Linked DNA regions of Homo sapiens. The protein of the gene in region 1 interacts with the protein of each later gene in a pairwise test. Each region holds a gene or a part of one and is shown in the gene's direction. Other genes may lie near its edges.

Region 1 (3,750 bases):
TTTCCTACACTCAGTGACAACATATTGCCCTCTTCTCATTGGTTACCATATGGAAAGAAACCATAATTCTGCTAAAGTTAGTTCAAATTAGACTTAAGTTTCTTTCAGTCCAACTGAGTTTCCTGTTTGGGAATCCAATCTTCAAACAACATTGGTTAAAACTGATACAGTGACTTGTGTTTGTCCAATTTGGTCTTTTTCTGTAGCACTTGTTCTTGCTCTATCACGTTAAATCTTTTGTGGTTTCATTTGAAATGAAGACAGTGGTCTTAGAAGATAACTTTCAACCAGTTGTTCCTCCAATGTATACTAAAAATTAAGCTTTTCATGGTCAAATGTGTATCACCAGGGAATTTCCATGTCTATTGAATGTATAGTTGTTTAAAACTAATGATAAGCCACAGGATTGGCTTTGGATTATTTTTCATGCAATTACTCATTTTCCTGTAGTGACTTGGATATGCCATTTGCCAAGTGGACCAAGGAGCAGGTTTGCAATTGGCTGATGGAACAGGGCTTGGGCTCGTACCTGAATTCTGGCAAGCACTGGATTGCATCTGGCCAAACGCTTTTGCAGGCTTCTCAACAAGATCTAGAGAAGGTGACTGCTTCTCTGTTTTGTTCACACAATGGATACTGAGAAGAAAACAGTATGAATGTAGGGTTGTTTTATAGTCCAGAAAGGGCCATGAGTGAAGCCAGTAAAAACTCTGTAAACAAAAGTTTGGGTTTTCAATTGCTTCATGCTTCTTTTTTCTGGTGGTCTTGGGAGGACCTGGTCTTGATGATTCCTTATGGAACACTTAAGCCATTGGGCATTTTAATGAAAAAGAATTACATAAGCATAATTCAGTTCATATTTCTCGAAATCATTGTTTGGCTTTATCATTGGCCTGTTTTTCTCAGTGTAAGATATGCAATTAACTTCACTTTGCAAAAGAAAAAAAAAAAGCACCCTACAATTTGTGTCTAATTATTTAACATTTCTTCCAAATTATTTAATATTTTGTACAAAATAAGAGTCAAATTCTTTTTATGCATGCTACAGTTCCTAGCTTACAAAGAAAATGAGTCACTAGGGAATGCCTAACACACCCCTAAGATAATTGTGGTGGTCTTGGCTTTTCAGGGACCTTTTGTTCAACAACACTTTACTAGCCCAAGTTGGGATTGTAATTCAGTATTGAATTGGGTCTTTAATGCTAGCTTCATTTTGGAGAAATTTGCATCCTTTGCCAGTGGCACCCAGCCTATACAGATAGAATTATAAAGTCAATGTTTATTGTTTCAGGAACTTGGAATCAAGCATTCACTTCATCGAAAGAAACTCCAGCTAGCACTCCAAGCCCTGGGATCTGAAGAAGAAACCAATCATGGGAAGCTGGATTTCAACTGGGTCACTAGTAAGAAGTTTTTATTCTAACAAAATGAAATAATTATATACATAGTTGCTTTTTCTTTTTAATCACAAGAACAGATGTTTTGTGGCATGGTAGCAACACTGGCCTCTCTCTTTTAGGATGGTTGGATGACATTGGCCTCCCTCAATATAAGACCCAGTTTGATGAAGGACGGGTTGATGGTCGAATGCTACATTACATGACTGTTGTAAGTGACTCACTCCTGGGGTTTGGGGGAGGAAAACTTTTTTTCTCTGAAAAACACAGGAATTGAGTAAGCCAAACACAGTGTTTTCAGTGATTCCACCAGAGTTTGAAGCTGTTGCTTGAACTTGAGGAGAGTGGCAGGCATATTTCCCATGAGGCTGAAGTTGTAGCATTTGGTGATTGTGATTGAACAGGCTTGGGATAATTTGAAACCCCAATGTAAGCTAAGTGAAGCCTAATTTAAACTAAGCTCTCCAGAAGGTTGATTTTATATGTAATACATTCAACAAAGTAAACACTGAAGTGTACACTTTGAATGGGTACATTTTATGGTATGCAAATTATATCTCATAAAGATTTTTTTTGTATTATTTCTTTTGAGATGGAGTCTCGCTCTGTCACCCAGGCTGGAGTGCAATGACGTGATCTCAGCTCACTGTAACCTCTACCTCCCAGGTTCAAGCCATTCTCCTGCCTCAGCCTCCCGAGTAGCTGGGATTACAGGCTCACGCCACCATACCCAGCTAATTTTTTTGTATTTTTAGTAGAGACGGAGTTTCGCCATGTTGGCCAGCTGGTCTCAAACTCCTGACCTCAAGCGACCTGCCTGCCTCGGCCTCCCAAAGTGCTGGAATTATAGGCATGAGTCAACACGCCCAGCCTAAAGATATTTTTTAAATAGAATGTAGAATTTTTAAGCCCAAGCTATCTCTAAGTTATGGGTTTCTATGTGCAATGACCATTTGGAAGAGGCCACCCTTTTGACCTGACATCTTCAAGGACTTGTCTTCTCCTTTCCACTCTGGACAACTGTTACCTGAAACCCTATCACCCGTCTCACTTCAGCCTAGTTCTGCTACAGCAGGAGTTACTGGGGTTAAAGGAGGAGGGAGGAAGGCTAGACTTCTACTCTGGTTCCTTCATTATTGTACATTTCTAGCCCTCCAGCCAATGTGTAGGACTATTCCCTGCTTTACAGCAGTGAGAAAGATGGATTCCAGGAGAACTTTGTTTTAGGTTCCATACCACTATTAATGTTCTACTTAAAATTCTCTTTATTTATTTATTTTTATTTTTATTTTTATTTTATTTTATTTTATTTTGAGACGGAGTCTCGCTCTGTCGCCCAGGCTGGAGTGCAGTGGTGCGATCTCGGCTCACTGCAACCTCCCTCTCCTGGGTTCATGCCATTCTCCTGCCTCAGCCTCCCAAGTAGCTGGGACTACAGGCACCTGCCACCATGCCTGGCTAATTTTTTGTATTTTTAATAGAGACGGGGTTTCACCATGTTAGCCAGGATGGTCTCGATCTCCTGACCTCGTTATCCACCCACCTTGGCCTCCCAAAGTGCTGGGATTACAGGCGTGAGCCACCGAGCCTGGCCTTGTTCTACTTAAAATTCTTTTATTTATTTATTTATTTTGGAGACAGAGTCTCACTCTGCTGCCCAGGCTGGAGCGCAGTGGCACAATCTTGGCTCATGGCAACCTCCACCTCCCAGGTTCAAGTGATTCTCCTGCCTCAGCCACCCGAGTAGCTGGGATTACAGGTGCACACCACTGCTCCTGGCTAATTTTTGTGTTTTTGGTGGAGATGGAGTTTCGCCATGTTGGCCAGGCTGGTCTGGAACTTCTGACCTCAGGAGATCCACCTGCCTCGGCCTCCCAAAGTGCTGGGATTACAGGCGTGAGCCACTGTGCCCGGCCTAAAATTCTTTTATTTAAACAGCTTTTTGTGAAGTAGGCTATAGACCTAACTACCCTAAGTATAATCTTTTTCAAGTAAGTAGCAAGTTTTAAACAGCCAACTTAAGTAGGCATTTCTCAATGTCAAAAAAATTTGGAGTTCAGTTCATGGATTTTTCTTCTCTGTCATTGAACCCAAGCCCCTTACCTTGATGAGCACATCACATAAACCTGCGTGAAATAATACTAATATGTGTAGTATGTTGCACATTTGCTATGTGTCAAACATCCTTTTAAGCATTTTGCTCATATTAATACTGGATTCTCAATAACCCTTTTAGTTAATATTACTAATATTATTATAGTGTGTATAATATATATTAAAAAGTTTTTAAAACTTTTTATTTTAAGATAATTTTAGATTTACAGAGGAGTTGCCAAAGCTAGAATTCTGTATA
Region 2 (3,750 bases), on another chromosome or scaffold:
GGGCGCCTGTAATCCCAGCTACTCAGGAGACTGAGGCAGAAGAATCGTTCGAACCTGGGAGGCGTAACCCGAGATTGCGCCACTGCACTCCAGCCTGGGCGACAGAATGAGACTCTGTCTCAAGAAAAAATAAATAAAATAAAAAAAATAAAGCTGGGCTGGGAAAAGCATCAGTGAGGTCGGGCAAGTCAGGATCATGAGCCAAGACCCAGCGCCAACCTCGGCCCCCAGCCACCTAATGTCCCTCTGTCCCCACACAGGGATAGGATTGGGAGCGGTCTGCCCCTGCGGGCTCCATACCACCCCCATTCCCTGGGGAACTGGACGGCTCCGATGAGGAGGAGGCAGAGGGGATGTTTGGGGCCGAGCTGCTGTCCCCCAGTGGGCAGGCTGACGTGCAGACGCTGGCCATCATGCTTCAGGAGCAGCTGGAGGCCATCAACAAGGAGATCAAGTGAGCCCTGGCCCCGCCCCGGCCTGCCCTGCCCTGCCGGAGCTGACTCCACAGCCCTTCTGGCTCTGGAGGCCTGAAAGCCTGAGTCCGTCTCCTCTTACACCATCCACAAGGAATTCTTCCAGCCCAACACTCACTCCGCTGTCCAGGCATCCCCTAGGATACACTCAGAAGTCTTCTATGTGCTACCTACACATATACCCCCCAGCCAGTACTCACCATTCCCCAACACACCAAAGCCTGCATCCCCAAATAGCCCAGTTCCTCTTGATGCATCAAGAATCTTCCATTACGCCATCGATTTTGTGGTTTCACATAACCAGTGCCCAGAGTCTCCCACTACCCTAGGAATCTCAAGACAACACAAGGTTCCCAACCTCAAACACCAAGAATCTCATCCTAACATGCTAATCAAAAACTTCAACTCCAGGCTGGGCACAGTGGCTCACGCCTGTAATCCCAGCACTTTGGGAGGCTGAGGCCAGCGGATCATGAGGTCATGAGGTCAGGAGATAGAGACCATCCTGGCTAACATGGTGAAAACCTGTCTCTACTAAAAATGCAAAAAATTAGCCAGGCATGGTGGCAGGCGCCCGTAGTCCCAGCTACTCAGGAGGCTGAGGCAGGAGAATGGCATGAACCCGGGAGGCGGAGCTTGCAGTGAGCCGAGATAGTGCCATGCACTCCAGCCTGGGCTACAGAGCGAGACTCCGTGTCAAAAAAAAAAAAAAAAAAAAAAAAAAAAAAGTCCCCAACTTATTAAGAAGCCCCCAGTGATGTAAAGTCTACCCTGATTCACCAGCAATGGCCATATTCAGCAATTCTCTTATAATGTACTCCCCATGAGCCTTCGGCAAATATACCATGACCACCACTTTCCATACCAAATGAGTCCATGCCCTTCCCAGATCCTAGATTGGCCTGAGTCCCTGATCTCACAATGCTCCTATTATGACCTTGCTCTTACAGGCCACCTTGAACTTGACCTTTTGTCCATAGTAATCCCTTCATGATTTTCCAAACCCCTTGACTATCATCAGGGCCACCCTGATACAAACCCCAATCACCTTGATAGCCCTAATCCTGCAATGACTTCCTGAGACTCTCAGGACCCCTTGACTCTCCTTGAGCCTGGAAGGCCTTCAGAAACCCACCAAAGTCCTCTGACGTCATTGCACCGTCCCCAGAATTCCCATTGCCCCACCAGGCCTTTCTGGCCCATTGTGCTCCCAGATTCCCTCTCCCGCTGTCTGCTGCGGCCCCTCACCCAGTTTCCCCTATTTCCCTCCTCAGGCTGATCCAAGAGGAGAAGGAGACAACAGAACAGAGGGCAGAGGAGCTGGAGAGTCGGGTGTCCAGCTCTGGCTTGGACTCGTTGGGCCGCTACCGCAGCAGCTGCTCCCTGCCCCCCTCCCTCACCACCTCTACCCTTGCCAGCCCCTCCCCTCCCAGCTCTGGCCACTCAACACCCCGCCTGGCACCCCCTAGCCCTGCCCGTGAGGGCACCGACAAGGCTGTGAGTGCTCTGAAGTCTCCCCAGCCTAGTAGGGGGATGGGGAGAGGTCAGAGGCAGGGCTCCCCAGTGTACAGCAACAATAACCCCTCACACCAGTGGTTTTCCAAAGCAACCTCAGCTTTCCCTAAAGGTTCAAACTCAAAGGGCAAAGGGGAGGCTGAGTCACTGGGATCTTGAACCCTAACTTTCACTTTAGTCAGATCTGGTCTACTTTTATTTCTCATGCGTCAAGTTTCTGCATAGGATTTTAAAAAGTTTCTGGCTGGGTGCGGTGGCTCACGCCTGTAATCCCAGCACTTCGGGAGGCCAAGGTGGGCAGATCACTTGAGGTCAGGAGTTCGAGACCCACCTGGCCAACATGGTGAAACCCCCACCTCTACTAAAAATACAAAAATTAGCCTGGCCTGGTGGCACGTGCCTGTAATTCCAGTTACTCGGGAGGCTGATGCAGGAGAATCAATTGAACCCAAGAGGCAGAGTTTGCAGTGAGTTGAAATTGTGCCACTGCACTCCAACCTGGGAGACAGAGTGAAACTGTGTCTCAAAAAAAAAAAAAGTTTCTGTGACAACATGCATTGGAGAACTACAAATTAGATCCTCAGAATTGACCTTTGAGGGAGACAAAGAGATATTGGCCCTATTTTACTCCCTTAAATTCAGCTTTCCTGCTTCCAGAACCTGTAACTCATTAGCTTTCTTTGAGGCCTGACCAACATGGTGAAACCCCATCTCTACTAAAAATACAAAATTATCCGTGTATGGTGGTGTGGGCCTGTAGTCCCAGCTTCTTGGGAGGCTGAGGCTAAAGAATCACTTAAACCCGGGAGGCAGAGGTTGCAGTGAGCTGAGATCATGCCACTGCACTCCAGCCTGGCGACAGAGCTAGACTCTGTCTCAAAAAAAAAAAAAAAATTACCCGGGCATGGTGGCACATGCCTTTAATCTCAGCTACTTGGGAGGCTGAGGCAGGAGAATCTCTTGAACCTGGGAGGCAGAGGTTGCAGTGAGCCGAGATTGTGCCATTGCACTCCAGCCTGGGCCACAAGAGTGAAACTCCATCTCAAAAAAAAAAAAAAAAAAAAGTTTCTGCAACTCACCCTGACTTGAGCTAGACTACCTTCGTATACTGTGTTCTAAACCAGGGTCACCCCACACACACCTTAGTAGACATCTCAGTTAATAAGGAGCCCCCGACATGACTCTTTGAACTCAATCCAGCATCTGTGCCCTCTGTCCTCAGAATCATGTCCCTAAGGAGGAAGCTGGAGCTCCACGAGGGGAGGGGCCGGCCATCCCAGGAGACACCCCACCACCCACTCCCCGCTCTGCCCGTCTTGAGAGAATGACCCAGGCCTTGGCACTGCAGGCGGGGTCCCTGGAAGATGGGGGACCCCCACGGGGAAGGTCAGCAGGGACAAGGGATAGGGACAGGGAGAAGCTGGCTTGGGAAGATGAGAAGGGGGTGGACAAGGACTTGGGAGGAGAGGGGGCATCTCAGCAAGCATATGCTCTCATTCTCTCCTGCTTTCCCAGTGAGGGCACCCCAGATTCTCTGCACAAAGCCCCCAAGAAGAAGAGCATCAAGTCATCCATAGGCCGTCTCTTTGGCAAGAAAGAGAAGGGACGAATGGGACCCCCAGGCCGGGACAGCTCTTCTCTGGGTGAGTACCTCACTCTAACCCTTCCCTCCTTTGTTCCTTCCTCCCTTCCTCCCTCCCTTTCTTTCTTCTTTGTATGTTCATTTGACATCCATTCATGTCTTCATTCATTTGGTGATTTA
Region 3 (3,750 bases), about 54 Mb from region 1:
TGTTCTTTTTTTTTTTTTTTTTTTTTGCTCTGTGCTTCTTTTGTTCCCAAATTTCTCCAGATGTATCTACACAGTGTTTCTCAGAGTGGGATCCCTGACCTAGCAATATTAGTACCACCTGGGAACTTAATAGGCACGTAATGAATCAGATGTAATGAATCAGAAACTCGAAGGATAGGGCCCAGCAATCTGTGTTGTAACAAGCCCTTCTGGAGTGTCTCTTGTATGCTAAATTTAAGGGCCTAAACTAGAGAAACTGGTGCAGGTGGTAACTCTTCTCATGTGAATCGGCTCACCTAATGCCTCATGCAAAATTGCTACTTTAAACAGTCTTTCTCAGTTTTAATATATTATTTACACTCTTTGCAGTGAAGTTAGCAGTGATAATGTCAAGTTTTTCAGCTGAAATTTACTATGAAGACTGTATCTTCTTAACAAAATATCCTTTAACTCGTGATATTTTTTTCTGCCTCCCATTATCAAAGTTTTTCTTTCTGCGATACCTACCATGGGTTAGCCTTTAACTATGCTGTGTCAACTGTATGTGGGGATTATACTTACAATTAAAACTTGTATTTGACATACGAATGGGACTCAAGGAAATCAAAACTCTTCTTGGAAACAGTAGGAACATCTGAGCCAGTAATTAACAAACGTTGATTGCCAAGGAAATTCAAACCAAGGTTTAATAAGGAAGGAATTCTTGTAAAAATAGACATAATAGCTATATGTAAAAATAAGAATATCTCTCATGTATAAGGAATTTTTATGTTTTGTGTAGAATTCTAGAGAGTGAAAGTTATGAGTACTGATATATGATTAGTATGTTGAAGCTATTACAATATGAAGTTTGTCTGAAAATAGACTAGGCTATCCTGTGAGGTGAAGAGTTTCCTGTAGTTAGGGGTATTTAAGCCACATCAAATTGTGGGTCGATTGGGTGGTCTAGACCCTTCCTCCTCAAGTGTAGTACCATCTGGGAGTCATTAGAAGGGTAGAATTTCAGGTTTCACCCCATTCCTGGTGAATCAGTATCTACAACTTAACAAGATCCATGGATGATCTGTATGCACATTATGTCTGAGAAATAGTGCTCCAGTTGACATCTAATGAATTTTCGTATTATTTTTATACTTCTTATAGGATTGTGTTGTGTTGTAAAATTTAAATAACAGTCTAGAATAGAAGTTGGGTAAATACATGAGCTTTACCCCACTTTCCATTGTAAAGTCGCTAACTGAATTAAATACTTCCCTCAGAAACAAAGATTGTTTCTTGGATATTGTAGTTAATTTTAAGTGAACAGTTATTTACATACTAGTTCTTTGTTAACTTTGGACTCTTGGCGTTACACAAAAGTAAAACACGTCTTTTGGCTTTCGTGTAGCACACTCAGAATATTTTCAGTAACCCCCAAAATATATTCAGTGTTTAATCCTCCAATTCCTTCATGCATGTCCTCTTCATTTTCACCAAACCCAGCAGGATTCGTGACTCTCCCTCACAGAAACGTTCCCTTTCTGCTCAGAGTAGGTACTGATTTTGTCTCCTGCTTCCTCAGTCTGTATGAATGGACAGCAGCAACGGAAAGAAAAGAGGGTAGGTAAAGGGAGGTGGAGATATAAGGGGGACTGGAGCGCGATGGAGAGACCAGACTCTGCTCAAAGCTAAAATTTACTCGGGCAGGGAATACTTAACATACAATTCCCATTACCAAAACAATATGAATGAAGAAGAACTGAAGAGGTAATGAGAAATGACAGATGCCGCCACACCCTAGATTGGCTCAGGTCCCTACAACCATGACTACCATGCCCTGGCCCAGTGGGAAGAAAGCTGCTTAAAGAAATGACAAGCACAGAAGACCGGGGAGCCAAAAGGTGCCCAAGTCCGTTCCCATCCCCACCAGCGCAGGCTGACACAAGCGAAGGCTGTAGAGCCCATTGTGTGAAAGAAGCCCAGGCGGGGAAGCGTGTGCCCCCTTCCCACTTTGCCCATCCCTGGCCCTCGCCTTCGCAGGGGGCACTGGGAGCAGAGCGAGCCTCGGCAGCCCGGGAGCGGCTCTGGGGGAGACGAGTGTATCCGCGGGCGCGTGTGCGTGAGGAGGAGAGCAAAGACGTGATTACTTCAGAATTTATTTAAGGGCCGGTGGAAACCACTGCAGCAGCTTCCAGGGGAAGCCCTTGTTCCAGAGGAAGAGGAGGTGGTGGCTGCCAAGGAGGAGGAGGGGAGGAGACGGAGGAGGAGGAGTAGCAGCCACCGCACGAGGCAAGTGAGGAGAGAAGATGCTGTAGCGTCCTCACCGGCTGCCAGCAGGTTGGTTCTTCCGGCCAATTGAAGCAAGCAAAGAGGCTTGCAGAAAGGCCGGGAGGAGAAAAATGGGTGTGTGTGCTGTGGCGGCGGGGGGGCGGCGGGGGGGAGGGAAGGGGGGCCGGGGGACGGCGTGGGGTGATGTTTGCCTTTCCAGAGAAAAAGCGCCTCCTTTAAGTGAAACGAGACACGGGAGCGCGCGGAAACAGGCTGGGGGCCAGGAGGAGACCTGTCCTGCTTTTTGCATCCCTAGGGACTCGTTTTCCTTTAGGTTTCTAACTCCCAGGGTTAGCCTTAAACTCCAGAGGGGCTCCAGGAGGGGAGACTGGGTGGAGAACTTCTCTCCCAGATACTTCTCACGCCTTTTCTCCAAGCTTTCTTTTGGAGGGACGCCCCACACACCCCGGGTGGCCCGGGCGCGGAGGGGGAGCGGCGCCGCGTGGTTAAGTTTCTGAAAGTCAAACCCAGTCCCCGGTCTCCGGTCTCCGCCCCGGGGCTCCAGCTGCACGCGGGGAGCTGCGGCTGTTCTGGCAAAGGGGCCGCGGCTGCTTTAAGAGCCGCCTCCCCCTCTCCTCCTTTGACAATGGTCTGAACCGAGCTTTGCTTCCCAAAGCAAAATTTGTAATATGCCATTTTTCCGATGGACGCTTCTCCTTTTGGCTGCTGACGGAGCCACGGGAAGATGCCGAGCTCCTGCCACGCCACCGGGCCGGGGCACGTTCCGGGAGGGCGCCGGGGCACGCGTGTGTCTGAGCTGCCTTTCTCCTCCCGTTGCTAGGGAAATGGTCCAGGAGTGCTGGGTGTGAGCCTCCCTTCTCCTCAAGCCGGAGACTGCGGTTGTCATTGATCAATTGAAGAAGCAAGGACCCGAAATCACAGACATTAGGTACAGAAGCTGTCTTTGAGTTTTACTGTCTCCTTTCGCTGTATTTTTTGACCACCTCCCCGGCCCCACCCCGCCCCCAGGGAAGATGAGATGCAAATTCCTCCTTGTTGATTACCGTTAGGTGCCTTTTGCTTTCACCTCATCCTCTCCATCTCCTATCTCTCTACCTCCTGCCTACTTGGCTGTGTCCTGTTGGGCAGGATGAACAATTTTAGTGTGGAAATGATGAAGTCAACTTCTTCAAGGTGGTGGGGGGTGTGGCTGAGAGATAACTGTCCAGTAGTGTGGGTTGAGCTGGCTCTGGCTGTCCGTAAATGCACTAGGGTAAAGAAAGTGTAAAATGTGTCCATTAAAGGTGATAATCATATTTCCCGAGGACAGAGGCTTTCAAAGAGTTAAATAGGAGGGAGAATATTCATGTAATGTAATCAGACAATGGCTAGGATTTCTCTCACTGAATTACTCCTTGTAGGTTAACTGAGGTGGAGCTGGGATGGTTCTTAAGACTAAATGTTTTCAGAAGAAACTCACTATGGATAATAATTACATTCTTA

What was found.
Region 2: the proteins of PPFIBP1 (region 1) and PPFIA3 interact in a two-hybrid assay, tested with the Homo sapiens proteins (one study listed by BioGRID).
Region 3: the proteins of PPFIBP1 (region 1) and PPFIA2 interact in a two-hybrid assay, tested with the Homo sapiens proteins (one study listed by BioGRID).

What each region holds. Positions count from the first base shown.
Region 1 is NC_000012.12:27,681,096-27,684,845, forward strand, and holds part of PPFIBP1 (liprin-beta-1), read left to right. Parts: intron 1-450; coding exon 451-601; intron 602-1,291; coding exon 1,292-1,403; intron 1,404-1,519; coding exon 1,520-1,608; intron 1,609-3,750. UniProt on the Homo sapiens protein: May regulate the disassembly of focal adhesions. Did not bind receptor-like tyrosine phosphatases type 2A.
Region 2 is NC_000019.10:49,136,458-49,140,207, forward strand, and holds part of PPFIA3 (liprin-alpha-3), read left to right. Parts: intron 1-266; coding exon 267-454; intron 455-1,747; coding exon 1,748-1,970; intron 1,971-3,210; coding exon 3,211-3,374; intron 3,375-3,503; coding exon 3,504-3,631; intron 3,632-3,750. UniProt on the Homo sapiens protein: May regulate the disassembly of focal adhesions. May localize receptor-like tyrosine phosphatases type 2A at specific sites on the plasma membrane, possibly regulating their interaction with the extracellular environment and their association with substrates.
Region 3 is NC_000012.12:81,757,846-81,761,595, reverse strand, and holds the start of PPFIA2 (liprin-alpha-2), read left to right. Parts: upstream 1-2,245; 5' UTR 2,246-2,316; intron 2,317-2,940; exon of another isoform or gene 2,941-3,088; 5' UTR 3,089-3,196; intron 3,197-3,750. UniProt on the Homo sapiens protein: Alters PTPRF cellular localization and induces PTPRF clustering. May regulate the disassembly of focal adhesions.